Regions from separate parts of the Homo sapiens genome. Here regions 1 and 3 are each linked to region 2. Evidence: fine-mapped expression QTL. A gene starts in region 2. Each other region holds a variant in brackets. All regions are shown on one strand. Distances are between the middles of the regions.

Evidence for each region. PIP is the estimated chance that this variant, and not a neighbour inherited with it, causes the effect.
Region 1: its variant is fine-mapped to the expression of CDC37 in whole blood (TOPMed, PIP above 0.99).
Region 3: its variant is fine-mapped to the expression of CDC37 in whole blood (TOPMed, PIP 0.94).

The regions. Positions count from the first base shown.
Region 1 is chr19:10,423,638-10,428,637 of GRCh38, forward strand. All of the region lies in intron 1 of PDE4A (phosphodiesterase 4A), which reads left to right. Among named protein-coding and RNA genes, the nearest start is that of PDE4A, 5.6 kb to the left of the region's middle. RefSeq lists an enhancer at 2,132-2,211 and a silencer at 4,703-4,772. The variant C/T (reference allele first, on the strand shown) is at 2,779.
Region 2 is chr19:10,400,791-10,406,761 of GRCh38, forward strand. CDC37 (cell division cycle 37, HSP90 cochaperone) reads right to left here and starts at 2,752. Exons shown (of 8, transcript NM_007065.4): 1 at 2,588-2,752. The coding sequence starts at 2,689. MIR1181 (microRNA 1181) reads right to left here and starts at 2,748; the gene lies at 2,668-2,748. RefSeq lists silencers at 2,468-2,527, 4,238-4,287 and an enhancer at 2,928-3,277.
Region 3 is chr19:10,123,715-10,129,685 of GRCh38, forward strand. No RefSeq gene overlaps it. Among named protein-coding and RNA genes, the nearest start is that of EIF3G, 6.8 kb to the left of the region's middle. The variant A/G (reference allele first, on the strand shown) is at 2,795.

The DNA of each region.
Region 1 (5,000 bases), 22 kb after region 2:
TGAGGGTTCTGTGAGCTTGGAGATGTGTGTAAAGGACTTAACATAATCAGTAGATCTCCATTCAGGGACCTGGACTAAGGAGGGGGGACCTGGGTGGATCCCATTTCTCCAGGGTGAGTAGAAAAAAACAGGAACCTTAACCACATCCCCACGTAGACTCGGGTTTCTGTTTCACTGTGGGCCTGTGCACCCTTCAGTGTCTGTGCTGAGGTCCAAAGCTGGGACTGATGGGTGGGCTGTAGCTGGCATCAGTGCCAGGGTCCTCCCCCATTCCCAGGGAAAAGGAGGAAGGTGTCTGATGGCAACCTCAATGCTTAGAACAGGCATTTCTTCAAAAAGGGGGTTTTTACCAGGGCACATACAGGATTCAGTGCTCCCCACACTGGAGTTCATCCAGCTACCGCAAAAGGAGTCCAGCGAGCTCCCCCGATTTGGGTCAAAGGAATCCCCAGAGAGAGGGCACTGCCCACCCCCAACCGGAGATGTCATCCAAACCTCCCCTCCAGACCTGAAGATGTATGAGACGGCTGAGTCACGGCACAGCCACGATCTGTCAAGAGGCAGATGGAGAGGGAGGAAGAGGAGGACTTTGGTGGTGGGGGTGGGGAGCTGTCTGAACTGGGGACGGGGCCAACATACGGACCCTGCGTCCCCCCTCCCTGGGCCCTAAAACTTCCCCATCGAGGTGGGGGCACAGTGTGGCCCCAGGAGCAGGTGGAGGCAGCCGAGCTGGGGTATCCGTCTGGTCGCTGGTCTCTGTCTCCACTTGGGTCCTCGCCTCCCCCTTGTCCCTGGCGCTCCCAAGTCCCTGGATGTGGGTTGGGAGCGGGTCTCCCCGCGCGCCCTCTGCTGGACGACGAGGAAGGCACAGCCTGGGTGTGCGCTCCGAGCGCGGACCTGCTCCAGGGACGCCGCCAGTCCCGGAGCAAAGCAAAGTCGCCGCCACCGTCGCGGCGCCCGGTATTATTATTTTATGCTTATTGAGCGTCCTGGAGAGCGGGCGCCAGGCCGGCTGACCGCAGGCTGCGTGTGGGGTCCTCGCCCTCCCGGGCTTGGGACCAGGCCGCTTTCCCCATGCGCCAGCCCCTGCCACACGCTGCGGGGACTGTCGTCTGGAGGACAGGGAGGAACCTGGCCGAAAAGTTGCAGCCGTGGAGTTCCCGTCCCGCCTCTGCGCGCTTGCCCGGCAGGCCGGTGAACCCCAGCATCCTTGGCTCTGCGCTTCCTGCCCGGGAAACAGAGACCATGGGACTTGCCCAAGGTCACACAGCGAGGAAGGTGAGAATAGGAGTTAAAAACCAGATCTCGGCCAGGCGCGGTGGCTCTGTAATCTGAGCACTTTGGGAGACCGAGGTGGGCGGATCACGAATGAGGTCAGGAGTTCAAGATCATCCTGGCCAACATGGTGAAACCCCGTTTCTACTAAAAATACAAAAATTAGCCGGGTATGGTGGCACACGTCTGTAATCCTAGCTACTCGGGAGGCTGAGGCAGGAGAATCGCTTGAACCCGGGAGGCAGAGGTTGCAGTGAGTCGAGATGGCACCACTGCACTCCAGCCTGGCAGCAGAGCGAGACCCTGTCTCAAAAAAAAAAACAAAAAACAAAAAACAGATCTGCTCCACTGCAGACCGCTGGGTAACATTCACATGGCAGCCCTGCCCGCTGACTCGCTGTGTGACTTGGGGTCAGTGCTTGTGCCTCTCGGAGCCTCAGTTTCCTCATCAGTCAAACGGGGCTGAAAAATAAGAACTGTCCACCCCCAGGGCTGTGGTGAGGCTGATATGTTTGACGTAGGTGCTGGGCAGCCAGGAGCTGGTGTTCTGAGAAAGTACTTCCTCAAATGACATCAGCAGAGAGAAAGGGGGCGTCCCCCAAACCGCAAACCCGGCTGGTGGGGAAGGTGCCCCATATTTCATTGGTAACAGATTGACTGCAGGCTCTTATGACTTTAGGAAAACTGGGGCTTTGGACCTGGGAGAGCCACAGTCTGGCAGGGTGAGAACAGAATTGTGAGGGCATCTGAGCCCACTCTTTTCATTGTGGAGTATGAAAGAGTTCAAATCTGGCTGGGCGCGGTGGCTCATGCCTGTAATCCCAGCACTTTGGGAGGCTGAGGCGGGTGGATTATTTGAGGTCAGGAAATTGAGACCAGTCTGGCCAACATGGTGAAACCCCGTCTCTACTAAAAATACAAAAATTAGCCAGGTGGTAGTGGTGCATGCCTGTAATCCCAGCTACTGGTGAGGCTGAGGCAGGAGAATTGGTTGAGCCTGGAAGGCGGAGGTTGCGGTGAGCCGAGATTGGGCCACTGCACTCCAGTCTGGGCGAGAGACTGAGACCCTGTCAAAAAAAAAAAAAAAAAAAAAAAAAAAAAGGAAGGAGGGAAGGAAGGAAAGAAAAGAGTTCAAATCCACTTTTGGCCAGGCGAGGTGGCTCACACCCAGCACTTTGGGAGGCTGATGTGGGAGGATTGCCTGAGGCTGGAGTTTGAGACCAGCCTGGGCAGCATGGTGAGACCCTATCTCTACAAAAAGAAAAAAATAAAAGAAGTAAATCCAGCTTTTGTCCTGGACTCGCTGTGTGACCTTCACCTGTCAGAGCCTCAGTCTCCTCATTTCTAGCAGATTCGTTCATTCCACAAACACTGAGCGCCTTCAGAACTGTGGCTGAGAATGCTGTAGACCAAGTTTGTCCAACCCGTGGCCCAGGATGGCATTGAATTCGGCCCAACACAAATTCGTAAACTTTCTTAAAACAATGAGATTCTTTTTTTTTT[C/T]CCTCTCATTAGCTATTGTTAGTGTTAGTGTATTTTATGTGTGGCCCAAGACAATTCTTCGCCTTTCAGTGTGGCCCAGGGATGCCAAAAGATTGCACACCCTTGCCATAGACACATTCCCTGCTGCCCTGAAATTGTCAGACTAGAGGGTGAAGCAGAAATAGCAAGTAAAGGGCTGGGTGCGGTGGCTCAGGCCTGTAATCCCAGCACTTTGGGAGGCCAAGGCAGGTGGATTACTTGAGGCCAGGAGTTCGAGACCAGCCTGGCCAAAACCTGGCAAAACCCTGTCTCTACTAAAAATACAAAAATTAGCTGGGCGCACGCCTGCAATCCCAGCTACTTGGGAGGCTGAGGTGGGAGGAGGATTGCATGAACCCAGGAGGCGGAGGTTGCAGTGAGCCGAGATTGCGCCACTTCACTCCAGCCTGGGTGACAAAGCCAGACTCCGTCTCAAAAAAAAAAAAAGAAATAGCAAGTAAAGCTGTATGATAATTCAAGATGGTCACACATAGGATATGAAAAAAAGAGGGATCCTGAGGTCAGGGAAGGCCTCTCTGAGGAGGTGACATTTGAACAAAGACCCAAATAAAATGAGGGAGGTAAGGGCCGGGCGCAGTGGCTCACACCTGTAATCCCAGCACTTTGGGAGGCCGAGGCAGGTGGATCACGAGGTCACGAGTTCAAGACCAGTCTGGCCAGGATGTTGAAACTCCATCTCTACTAAAAATACAAAAATTAGCTGGGCGCAGTGGCAAGTGCCTGTAATCCCAGCTACTCAGGAGGCTGAGGCAGGAGAACTGCTTGAACCCAGGAAGTGGAGGTTGCAGTGAGCCAAGACCGTGCCAGTGCACTTCAGCCTGGGTGACAGAGCAAGACTCCGTCTAACAAAAAACAAAAGAGGGAGGTTGCTACATGGGTGTCTGATGGAAGAGGGTGCCAACCAGAGGGAAGAGCCAGTGCAGAGGTCCTGTGGTGGGAGTGTGTCTGATACGTTGGAGGCAAGTGTGTCTGAGGCAGAGTGAGCGAGGAGGCAGTGGAAAAAAAGGAGGGAGCGAGGTGACAGGCAGCTCATGTAAGGGCTCATAGACCATTAGGCCATGATCAAGGTTGGCTTTAGGCCTCAGTTTACATCTGGCTTCCTAGGACGGGACAAGCATCATTGGGCTGGAAGGAAACTCATCCATAAAGGGCTTGTGTAGCCTCATGGCTAAAATTCCTGTCTCTGAAGCCAGACAGCTGGGTCCATAATCCAGCTCTGATCTTTCTAGATTGGGAGACCCTAGCCAAGTCACTCCTCTCTGGGCCTTGGCTTCCCCGTCTCTGAAATGGGCCTAGTAAAAACCGTATTCCCAAGGGCTGATCTGACGAACTGGCAAAACAATTCAGGGAAGCTAAGGGCATTGAAACCTTGGTCGGTGAACAAAAATGCATTTCTGGGACAGGTATAGTGGCTCATGCCCAACACACTTTGGGAGGCTGAGAGGGAGGCGGATCACTTGAGCCTGGGAGGTGGAGGTTGCAGTGAGCCAATATCATGTCACTTGCACTGCAGTCTGGGTGACAGAGTGAGACCCTGTCAAAAAAAAAAAAAAAAAAAGAATATCACCTGGTGGGTGTCTGGTGGGTACTTTGTGAGGATTAAATGAGATCATAAGACCAAGTGTGGTGGCTCACGCCTGTAATCCCAGCACTTTGGGAGGCCAAGGCGGGCAGATCACTTGAGTCCAGGAGCTCAAGACCAGCCTGGGCAACATAGGAAAACCCCATCTCTAGAAAAAGTACAAAAAATTAGTCAGGCATGGTGGCGCACATGCTACTCAGCTACTTAGCTGCTCAGGAAGCTGAGGTTGAAGGATCACTTGACCGCAGGAAGTTGAGACTGCAGTGAGCTATGATCGTGCCACTGTACTCCAGCCTCGATGACAGAGTGAGATCCTGTCTCGAGAGAGAGAGAGAGAGAGAGAGAGAGAGAGAGAGATATTGAGAGAGAGAGAGAGAGAGAGATCATAGCTAGAGGCACTGGATGCACAGGAAGCTTTCTAAAGGGTTAGTTGCTATCATCACCATCATCGTCATTATCATCATCATCTATACCCTCTAGCTAGTATAGTGATTTGCATATTATAAGCCTTCAGTAAATATTTGTCAAATACTGATAATAACTGTAGCTCATATTGAGTGCTTACTAGGTTCAGACACTTTTCTGAGCTTTTTATGTGTCC
Region 2 (5,971 bases):
TAGCTAGGACTATAGGCATGTGCCACCACATGTGGCTACAGATTTTTTTTTTTTTAACCATGAACAGAAATTATTTAAATGATGATGATGATAATAGCCACTGCCCCAAAAGGATTACAAATATTAAATGAATAAGGTAAGCCTTACAACAACCTTATGGGGTGGACATCATTCAGATTCTCAGGTAGGGAAACTGAGGCACAGAGCGATCAAACAGCTCCCTGGCAGTCACGCAGCACGTGAGTGATACAGACAGAGCTGAGATTTGAACCTAGTCAGGCCTGTGCTCTGAACGACAGCAATCTCTCCTTCCCCTCCACAATGCTTCCTTCCAAACCTGCCCCAAGTTTTCCTGACCCAGTCTTAATTCATTCTTACAAAGGTCTCAGGGAGGTGGGGCCATATTATCCCAGGTTTCACATGGGCTCAGGGAGGCTTCTTGTGAGTCTTGCCACATCAAAGAAAGAAAGAAGCAGCAAGAGGTGGGGCTAGGATTGGAACCCAAGCTTGCCTGTCCTTGAACCTGTGCTGGAGACGCTGAAGCCCCCTGCCTCCCTTACATGCCACTACAACCACCGGGGTTCTCAGCGGCAGGACAGGAAAAGCTCTGTGCCAGAGGGAGGAGGGTGTGGCAGGTACACTACGCTGCAGGAGGGGGGCCCTCCCACCCGGCAGGACCAAACCATTCTCCACAGTAGTAAAGATTAACCTCTTTATGTGACAGAAATAGGTCTTCCCAAGAATAGTCTTTGGAGCTTTGAGGAAGTCTTAAATATTTCATAATAAAATGTTACACACGGCAAGAAATAGAAGCGCTAGAACTTTCTTCCCACACTCCAGTGGCTTGCTTGGCAGGTACACTACCCAGGAGACTCAGGATTTAAGGAATAGGTCTGGAAGTGGGACTGGGAGCTAGATGAAGAGACTAATGCCGTATTCCAGAGTATTCTGGAAGGATGGGAAAGGGACCTTCTAGTTGTTTCTGGATAAATGATGGGGAATTGCCCTATGGGAGGGTGGGGTAAGAGATCCTCACTAGAAGGTTCTGAGAGGTATATGCCCTTCGTTTAAGAGCACAACATGGCTGGGTGCGGTGGCTCACGCCTGTAATCCCAGCACTTTGGGAGGCCGAGGTGGGTGGATCAACTGAGGTCGGAAGTTCAAGACCAGCCTGACCAACATGGAGAAACCCTGTCTCTACCAAAAATACAAAATTAGCCAGGCATGGTGGTGCATCATGCCTGTAATCCCAGCTACTCAGGAGGCTGAGGCAGGAGAATCACTTGAACCCGGGAGGCAGAGGTTGCAGTGAGCCAAGATTGTGCCACTGCACTCCAGCCTGGGCGACAAGAAGGAAACTTCGTCTCAAAAAAAAAAAAAAAAAAAAAAAAAGGAATACAACAGACACTGGTATGTAATGCAGGCACACTCATTTGGGGTAGCAGGAGGTTAAACCTTTAAGTCTTAGTCATCCCATTGGCTCGTGAGCACTGAGAGGGTGGTGGGACATGGATCACCCAGGCTTGGGATTCTGGGGTCTGGATTCGGGACCTCTGTTGTGGTCAGATAGAAGAAGGGGTGGTGAATTTAGAATCAGACCAGGAGAGTCCCTGGATAAGAGCAGGGACAATTTGGGTCACAGAGTAGCTAACAGGCTGGGGACAAAAGGTGGGGTGGGTTTGGGGTTCTGGGCTTGAGTTAGGGGAGAGTTTCCAATGCTGGCTGAGGCTCATACAGGAAGCCAGTCTGGGAAGTGGGTGGTGACAGGGTCTGCAATACCAAGTAGGAGCAGGGGCTCTGGCTAGGCCGGAAGCCACGTGGGCAGGATTTCCTGGTATAATGGGAAATGGGTCTACCGGAGGCCAAAGGAGAGGCTGGAATGTGAGGCTCTATCGGGTTGGAGCTGGTAGTTAGATCCAGAGGGGAACCAGATTCCAAAACCCAAGTACTCGGTGAGACTAAGGATCCTGAAGGGGGACGGTTCTACACTCTAGGAAGGGGGTCCTGGGTGTGGGCAGGGACAGGAATATCAGAGTAGCACAGAGTTCCTTGTTCCGTTTAGAAAAGGAGTGGCGACTCCGGATCTGAATGGGAACCCCGGATCAAGATCCCGGAAAGTAGATCCCGGGACAGACCAAAGTATTGGGGGTCCAGACTACGGAGGTGGGGGGGCGATGGGAGATCCCAGATAGGAAGTGAATACCCGAATAGGATGAGGGATCATCTAGAAGAATTTGGGGTCCAAACTTTGAGGCAGAGTTCTGGGTATAAATGTTAACTGCCGAACAGAATTAGGGAGAACCCCCAAGACTCGTCTAGGGGACTCCAGACTATGAAGAAGTTCTAGGGGGTGAATAGGGAATCCCACGCAAAAATCGGAGCAGGGAGTGGGGGAGCGGAGATCCAGGGCAGGGACTCAGGGTCCCAATGGTACTGGGGTCCCGGAGTTGAATCGAAGCTCCTGAAAATCCAGACTGGGGGGGTGAGAATCCTAGGTGTGAACAGCGGGGTCCCTGGGCAGTATCGGGGATCACAACTCCGAAGCGGGGTCCGGGAGTGGGGAAAGGGATGGGCGCGCGCGCCTTACCTGATGCCGCCAGCGGAAGAGACTGGCCGTGTCGATGTTGGGGTGCGTCTCGTCTTCATCATCAGACACCTCAATGTGGTCCCACACGCTGTAGTCCACCATCTTGCCTTGGCGGCCCAGCCCGCTCCGGCTCGGGTGGCGGCGACGGCGGCAGCAGTGGAGACTAGGAGCGCGGAGCCCCGCCCCTTCCGCTTCCGCCGAGCGCGGGAAACCCCGCCCTGTGTGACGTCACATCCCTAGTAACCGCGGCAGCGGCACTAGCTACCCAGCCAGCCTTAAAGGGCCCTGCGTAAGTGTTCCGGCCCCCTGGAGTTCCCGCAGAGACTCCGCGTCATCGGGCGCTGGGGCTCCGCTAGGTCTCCTGGGGGCATATGAGTGCGCGCTTCAACTCCGAGCCCCCCTCATCTCCCGCCGCTCCACGGTGGGCGTTTGGGGTGGCAGGGAGGGGACGGTTGATGAGACTGAGAGGACTGTCCCCTCAGCCACGCCGCAGTGACGTCTGCAAGGGGTAGGGACACGGCGGGAAGGCCCTCCCCCTGCCCTTCGTAAACGGGGACCTAAGCCTGCGCTGGAGAGGGGCGCCTGATGACTCCTCGGACTTTCTCAGCCCGAGGAGGACTGGACCTGCCCTGGGGGTGTCTAAATCGGGGGTGGTATGGCCCTCCCCTTGCAGGGTTAAACGTGGAGGGGAGACTGTGGCCCTGCCTTGGGAGCTGGGGTTTCCCCGCCTCGGCAACAGCCTTCTCCTTGTCTTCCACCTCCTGCCATTCGCAGCGAGGACTCGCGCGAGCGCGCGCGCGCACACACACACACACACACACACACACGCACACACACACACACACACACTTTGGAATCACCCGGACCCCCTCAAAACGGGTCTCGGCTCCCCACCCCGCTGGCCGCTGGGTGTCGCTAGAGTCTAGCCCACGGCGCGTATTCCTGGCCCCGCGCTTGGTGGGGGGAATCGTGGAGGGGTGGAAGGGGGCTTTCCTTGTCGTCACAGTCTGGGGCCACGCATAGCCCCTCCCCGTTCGTCTTGGGGTACGCTTCCTCCGCCGGGGCTCTAAGGACTCCATTACTCTAAGCATGCAGGGCCTCGACCACCTCACACTTCCATGCATCCCAATCCACGCTTTGATACCAGGATAATAGGCCGTGTTGCAGCCTTGGGCCAGGATTATCTCAGATTAAAGGGTGCTCCCTCGGGGGTCAGGCTGGATAGGAGGAGCTCCAGCCACTCCGGTGAGGGGCGCCTCTTCCTAGTCTCCCCTGGAGCCGACGTTGGAGGCAGTGCCTGGAGAGAGCGAGCGAAGTTCTCCAGAAGGGGGAGGATTCCCCGGTGCATGGAGCGGGAAGGGCCATCGGACAAAAACGTCCTCCCGCTGCCGCCCTTCCCCCTCGCGCTTCATTCAAACCCGCGAGTGGGCGGGCAGGGGCGGGGGAGTCCCCATCTCCTACCCCTCCCTCTTCCCCTCCACCCTGGCAGTCCAGCACATCAGTGGCCGTCACGGCCCGGGCACGCGCGCGCACGGACCCACACCCCGGCGGCTCTCACAATCGCACACACACATACACACACACACCAGCAAACAAAGGGTCTGGACACCCCCGTCCCCTCCCGCCCCCCAGGCCAGGGAGGGCGGGGCATCCCCTCCCCAGGCCCCCCGCAAGGTAAGCTTGGGGCTGCGAGCTGCGGTGGGGAGGGGGACACGGTGCCACAGTGGGAGGGGGCCAGGAAGGTAGGGGGTTCCCCGGCTCCCCAGGAAAGTCGTACCCCCACCCCCACCGTATGCCCTTTAGGGATTCGGCCCCGTCATCAGCCTGGGGGTGTTTGGAGAGAATCCCAGATGTCGGGGATTCCCGGATAGGCGCGGGGGTCTCTTCCTGGCTCTGGAGACTGGAGCTGCCCAGCTTCAGCAAAACAGGGTTCCCGGAGCCTCAGCTTCCAGAACTGGGGATAGAGCGCCGGAAGCTTCCCCATCAACCCCAAGCATTTCCTAATCTGCCAGCACAGCACCTCCAGCCCTGGGGACTGAGGAGAGAGACCCCTAAGTTGCTTTGCACTGTCCCTCTGTCCCCGGTCCCCATCCCACCCCCATCGGTGCAAACCCTGCTATGTCTCTCCTGCCTGTGTGTGTGTGTGGGGGGGAGGTTTGCGGGAATTGGGAACGCTTTTTGGGGCTACCTTTGCTTCTTCTGCTACATCCCATAGCCACATACCACTGAGCTGCGGTGGGGCCCGGCAGGCGGCTTTGCCTTCCTGAGTCTCAATTTCCTCCTCTGCAAAGTGGGTAATGACACACACCTAGGATTCCGCGAAATCGTGCTCGCGGAGCCTGCTTTTGCGCCATCATTTTATTTATTAGCTCATTTCACATCTCTTTCCCAAGTGTCTACTTACGATGTACTGGGCACTGTGACCAGGCTTTGGGGCAGCAGCAACCAACAAACCCAGTAGGGGTCCCTGCTCCTGGCTAGTGAGGGAGCAGGATCCCTGTATAAACATACAAATCCCCGCGGGTGATTTCAGACTGTGAAGACTAAAATTCTGTCCTCGGACAGAGAGAGACTAGGGAAAGGCACTCAAGATTAAAGGAGAAGCTGGGCACAGTGGCTCACGCCTGTAATCCTAGCACTTTGGGAGGCCGAGGCAGGCGGATCACTTGAGGTCAGGAGTTCGAGACCAGCCTGGCCAACATGGTGAAACCCCATGTCTACTAAAAATACAAAAATTAGTCGGGCGTGGTGGCAGGCGCCTGTAATCCCAGCTACCCGGGAGGCTGAGGCAGAAGAATTGCTTAAACCCGGGAGGCGGTGGTTGCAGTGAGCCAAGATCACACCACTGCACTCCAGTTTGGGTGACAGAGCAAGACTCTGTCAGAAAAAAAAACAAAAAACAAAAAACAGATTAAGTAAGACTTCTGGATCCTGCCTGCCTTCCTCCTTGGGTCTGAGCTCATGAGGGCAGGATCAGGTCTAGAACAGTGCCTGGCACACAGTAGGTGCTCAATAAATGTTGAATGAGCGTGGCACCCTGGTGTGAGCCTGTAGTCCCAGCTACTCGGGAGGCTGGCTGGAGGATCCCAGCGACACCCATCTCTAAAAAAAAATAAAAACAAAAAATAAATCCTTAGCTGGGCATGGTGGCACACGCCTGTAGTCCCAGCTATTCAGGATGCTGAGGCAGGAGAATGGCTTGAACCCGGGAGGCAGAGGTTGCAGTGAGCTGAGATAGTGCCATTGCACTCCAGCCTGGGTGACAAGAGCAAAACTCAAAAAAAAGAAAATCTTAAATGAATTAAAGAGGGGATTAGTTTAAGACTAGATTCTAGAACTGTAGATTAGGAAGAAGGCTTAGCATAAACCAATCCACCCCACTCC
Region 3 (5,971 bases), 280 kb before region 2:
CCGCCACCACGCCCAGCTAATTTTTGTATGTTTAGTCGAGATGGGGTTTCACCGTGTTAGCCAGGATGGTCTTGATCTCCCGACCTTGTGATCCGCCCACCTTGGCCTCCCAAAGTGCTGGGATTACAGGTGTGACCCACCCGTGCCCGGCCCAGGTCCTTTTTTTCTTTTTTCTTTTTTTTTTGGGGGACGGAGTCTTGCTCTATTGCCCAGGCTGGAGTGCAGTGGTGCGATCTCAGCTCACTGCAACCTCCGCCTCCTGGGTTCAAGCGGTTCTCCCGCCTCAGCCTCCTGAGTAGCTGGGATTACAGGCATGCACACCACCACACCCGGCTAATTTTGTATTTTTAGTAGAGACGGGGGTTTCTCCATATTGGTCAGGGTAGTCTCGAACTCCCGACCTCAGGTGATCCGCCTGCCTGGGCCTCCCAAAGTGCTGGGATTACAGGCATGAGCCACCGCACCTGGCACGCCTTTTTTTTTTTTTTTTTTTTTTTGAGACAGGGTCTTTCTCTGTCACCCAGGCTGGAGTGCAGTGGCACGATCACAGCTCACTGCAGCCTCAACCTCCCCAGGCTAAGGTGATGCCCTTGCCCTGGTCTCCCAAAATGCTGGGATCACAGGCATGAACCACCGTGCCCAGACTCATTTAAGGAATATAGTGACTCGGGCAAGGGACATGGTGTGCCCTGTGCTCTGTCCTGTTTTGTCTTCAAAGCCTTGTTCTGTAGAGCTGCGCAGACGTGTCTCACGTGTCTCAGAGTCAGGGGCTTTGTGAAATTACGCTGGAAAGCAGAATTGAGCAAACCCAGCTTAACATTAGTTACTTTTTCTCACATTTTCACAACAAAATATCACAGACTAGGAGGCTTAAACAGCACACATTTATTTTCTCAGTTCTGGAGGCTGGAAGTCCAAGATCACAGTGTCGGCAGGGTTGGTTTCTTCTGAGGTGGGGGCACCTTCTCCCTCGGTCCTCACGTGGCCTCCTCTGTGTGTGTCTATGTCCCAATCTCTTCTTCTAAGGACATCAGTCATATTGGATTAGGGCCCACCCTAATGACCTCATTTAAACTTTTTTTTTTTAATTATTTTTTTTAAAGGTGAAGTCTCACTCTGTAGTCCAGGCTGGAGTGCAGTGGTGCAATCTCAGCTAATGGCAACCTCCACCTCCTGGGTTCCAGTGATTCTCCTGCCTCAGCCTCCCGAGTAGCTGGGTCTACAGGCATGTGCCACCACACCTGGCTAATTTTTGTATTTTTGTATTTCTAGTAGAGACGGGGTTTCACCAAGTTGGCCAGGCTGGTCTCAAACTCCTGATCTCAAGTGGTTTGCCTGCCACGGCCTCCCAACGTGCTGGGATTACAGGCATAAGCCACCACACCTGGGTTTAATTTTCTCTCTAAAGGTCCTGTTTCTGCTGGGCACAGTGGATCACGTCTGTAATCCCAGCACATTGGGAGGCCAAGGTGGGCGGATCCCTTGAGGTCAGGAGTTCGAGACCAGCCTGGCCAACATAGCGAAACCCCTGTTGTCTACTACAAATACAAAAATTAGCCAGGTGTGGTGGCAGGCATCTGTAATCCCAGCTGCTCGGGAGGCTGAGGCATGGCAATCCCTTGAACCCGGGAGGCAGAGGTTGCCATGAACCAATACTGCGCCACTGAACTCCAGCCTGGGCGATGGAGTGAGACTCCTTTTTTTTTTTTGAGATGGAGTTTTGCTCTTGTTGCCCAGGCTGGAGTGCAGTGGCATGATCTTAGCTCACCGCAACCTCCACCTCCCGGGTTCAAGTGATTCTCCTGCCTCAGCTTCCCTAGTAGCTGGAATTACAGGCATGTGCCACCATGCCCAGCTAATTTTGTATTTTTAGTAGAGACGGGGTTTCTCCATGTTGGCCAGGCTAGTCTTGAACTCCAAACTCAGGTGATTCGCCTGTCTTGGCCTCCCAAAGTGCTAGGATTATAGGTGTGAGCCGCCGCACCCGGCCAAGACTTTGTAAAAAAAAATAAAAATAGGCCATGCGCGGTGGCTCACACCTGTAATCCCAGCACTTTGGGAGGCCGAGGTGGGAGGATCACTTGAGGTCAGGAGTTCGAGACGAGCCTGGCCAACATGATGATACCCCATCTCTACTAAAAATACAAAAATCAGCTGGGTGTGGCCAGGCATGGTGGCTCACGCCTGTAATCCCAGCACTTTGGGAGGCCAAGGTAGGTGGATCACCTGAGGTTGGGAGTTCGAGACCAGCCTGACCAACATGGAGAAACCCTGTCTCTCCTAAAAATACAAAATTAGCTGGGCGTGGTGGCGCATGCCTGTAATCCCAGCTACTCAGGAGGCTGAGGCAGGAGAATCGCTTGAACCCAGGAGGCAGAGGTTGTGGTGAGCCGAGATCCTGCCATTGCAGTCCAGCCTGGGCAACGAGAAGGTAACTCTGTTTCAAAAGAAAAAAAAAAAAAACAGCTGGGCGTGGTGGTGCGTGCCTGTAATCCCAGCTACTAAGGAGGCTGAGGCAGGAGAATCACTTGAACCCAGGAGGCGGAGGTTGCAGCGAACCAAGATTGCGCCATTGCACTCCAGCCTAGGCAACAGAGACTCCATCTCAAAAAAAAAAAAAAAGTAAATAGAGATAAAAAGAAAGAAATACTAAATTGATGGACATGCAGATGTGGTAACAGCCAAAAAACAGGGGCAGAAAGGAGACGTGGCAATGTCCTTACTGTGGTTTTTCTAGGGAAGTAGATGGGCACCTCAGCCTTACATGTTTATTTCATTTAAAAAACAGCCTTCC[A/G]CTATGAACTATGGTATGGTGGTTCCTCAAAACATTAAAAATAGAACCACCAAATGACCCAGCACTTCCACATCTGCTTTATACTTACAAGAATTGAAATCACTGGAGACCAGCCTGGGCAACAGAGTGAGACGCCATCTTTACAAAAAATAATCATATATTAAAAGGAAAAAAAAAGAAGCCAGGCACGGTGGCTTACACCTGTAATCCCAGCACTTTGGAAGGATGAGGAGGGACGATCATTGGAGCCCAGGAGTTTGAGACCAGCCTGGGCAACATAGCAAGAACTCATCTTTACTAAAAATAAAAATAAAAATTAGTTAGGCGTGATGGTACATACTTGTAGTCCCAGCTACTCCAGAGACTGAGGTTGGGGGATCTCTGGAGCGAAGGAGTTCGAGGCTGCAGTGAGCTATGATCGCATCACTGCAGTCCAGTCTGGGTGAAAGAACAAGACCCTGTCTCTAAAAAGAAAAGACAAGGTTTCTAATTCTTACACCAAAATACATCCTCAAGTTGTTCTTGGTGAAGGATCGTATACCTGAAAATGTGACCACTGAAAAAGTGGGATTAAAAACAAGGAAATTCAGGCCAGGCGCGGTGGTTCACACCTGTAATCCTAGCACTTTGGGAGGCTGAGGCAAGCGGATCACCCGAGGTCAGGAGTTCAAGACCAGCCTGGCCAACATGGTGAAACCCCATCTCTACTAAAAATACAAACATTAGCTGGGTGTGATGGCCCATGCCTGTAATCTCAGCTACTCAGGAGGCTGAGGCAAGAGAATCCCTTGAACCCAAAGATGGAGGTTGCAGTGAGCAGAGATCGCGCCACTGCACTGCAGCTTGGGTGACAGAGTGAGACTCCATCTCCAAAAAAAAAAAAAAAAAGGAATTCAACAAGTTGGTTAGATTCAAAAAACACAGTTTACAAAATCACAGCCAATACAAATGGAGCATCTCTCCATAGGCAAAGGACCATGGTTTAGAAATCAAGAAAACATCCCATTTATATTAGTAATGAAGGGACTAAATACTTAGGAATCAAGTTATGAAGTCTGCAAGATCTGGATGAAAAGCTGTGGACACAAAGGAATTCCTGAACAAACAGGACAAACCCTGTTCTTAGAAAGGAAGGCTTGTCATTAACATGTCAATTCTTCCAGAAGTCTGCAAAGTTAATGAAATCCCTATAAAACACCTGCTTGACTTTTAGCGGCTGTGCCAGTTCTAAAGTTTCAATCCAGTCATTCAACTCCTAGAAAAGTAGCCTAGACGTGGATACACATGTGTATACAAATCTATGTCCAGCCATCCCTCGGTATCCCCAGGGGATTGGTTCTAGGACCCCATGTGGTACCAAAATCAGAATGTGCTCAAATCCCTAATATAAAATGTCATAGGCCGGGCATGGTGGCTCACACCTGTAGTTCCAGCACTTTGGGAGGCTGAGGCGGGTGGATCATTTGAGGTCAGGAGTTCAAGACCAGCTTGACCAACATGGTGAAACCCCGTCTCTACTAAAAATACAAAAAAATTAGCCGGGCGTGGCGGCACATGCCTGTAATCTCAGTTACTTGGGAGGCTGAGGCAGGAGAATCACTTGAACCCGGGAAGCAGAGGTTGCAGTGAGCCAAGATTGTGCTACTGCACTCCAGCCTGGGCGACAGAGTGAGACTCTGTCTCAAATATAAAATAAAATAAAATAAAATAAAATGGCATAGTATTTGCATATACGCTACACATATTCTCCTGTGTACACTACTTTTTGACAGAGTCTTGCTTTGTCACCCAGGCTAGTGCAATCTCGGCTTAATGCAACCTCCACCTGCTGGGCTCAAGTGATCCTCCCATCTCAGCCTCTGGAGTAGCTGGGACTACAGGTGTGTGCCACCATGCTCAGCAAATTTTTGTTATTTTTTGTAGAGAAGGTGTTTCGCCATGTTGGCCAGGCTGGTCTTGAACTCCTGGCCTCAAGTGTTCCTCCTACCTTGGCCTCCCAAAGTGCTGGGATTACAGGCATGACCCACTGCGCCCGGCCTCTCCTGTGTACTTTATGTCGTCTCTAGATTATTTGTAATACCTGACATAACGTCTACACGTTGCTTTATTCTCATGGATTCCATGTAGTACTTGGTAAGTGGCAAATACAAGTTTTGCTTTTTGGAACTTTGTGGAATTTTTCTGAATATTTTAAATCTGTGGTTGGTTGAATGCCAGAGGTGGAACCCTTGGATACAAAGGCCTGACCTGCATCACAATTCAATCTACTGCTCTTGAGACTGTAGTTGTTTCCAAACAATATAAAGAAAAAAAGTTCAAATAAAGGCTTTCTAAGAGATTTATTGTATAACATAGTGAGTATAGTTAATATATTCTTGTCCAGGCGCAGTGGTTCATGCCTATAATCCCAGCATTTGGGGATGCCAAGGCAGGTAGATCGCTTGAGCCCAGGATTCTGAGACCAGCCTGGGCAACAAAGCGAGATCCTGTCTATAAAAAAATATAAAAATCAGCTACCAGGCATGGTAGCTCATGTCTGTAATCCCAGCACTTTGGGAGGCCGAGGCAGGCAGATCGCTTGAGCCCAGGAGTCTGAGACCAGCCTGGCCAACATGGCGAAACCCCATCTCTACTAAAAACATAGAAATTAGCCAGGCCTGGTGGCAGGCCTGTAATCCCAGCTACTCGGGAGACTGAGGCATGAGAATAGCTTGAACCCAGGAGGCAGAGGTTGCAGTGAGCCAAGATCGCACCACCGTACTCCAGCCTGGTGACAGAGTGAGATTCCGTCTCAAAAATAAATAAAAATAAAAATAATGATTAGCTGGGTATGGCGGCACATGCCTGTGGTCCCAGCTACTACAGAAGCTGAGGTGGGAGGATCACGTGAGGCCAGGAGTTTGAGACCACCCTGAGCAACACAGTGAGACCCCATCTCCACAAAAAAAATGTAAAACTTAGCTGGGCATGGTGGCATGCGCCTGTAGTTCCAGCTACTCAGGAGGCTGAGGCAGGAGGATCACTTAAGCCCAGGAGATCAAGGCTGCAGTAGAACATCGCTGCACTCCAGCCTGGGCAACAGAGCAAGATCCTGCCTCTAAAATATATATATATTTTTTTTAAAAAGGACAAAACTGATACACATATTAATGACATGGATGAATCCCAAAGGCATTT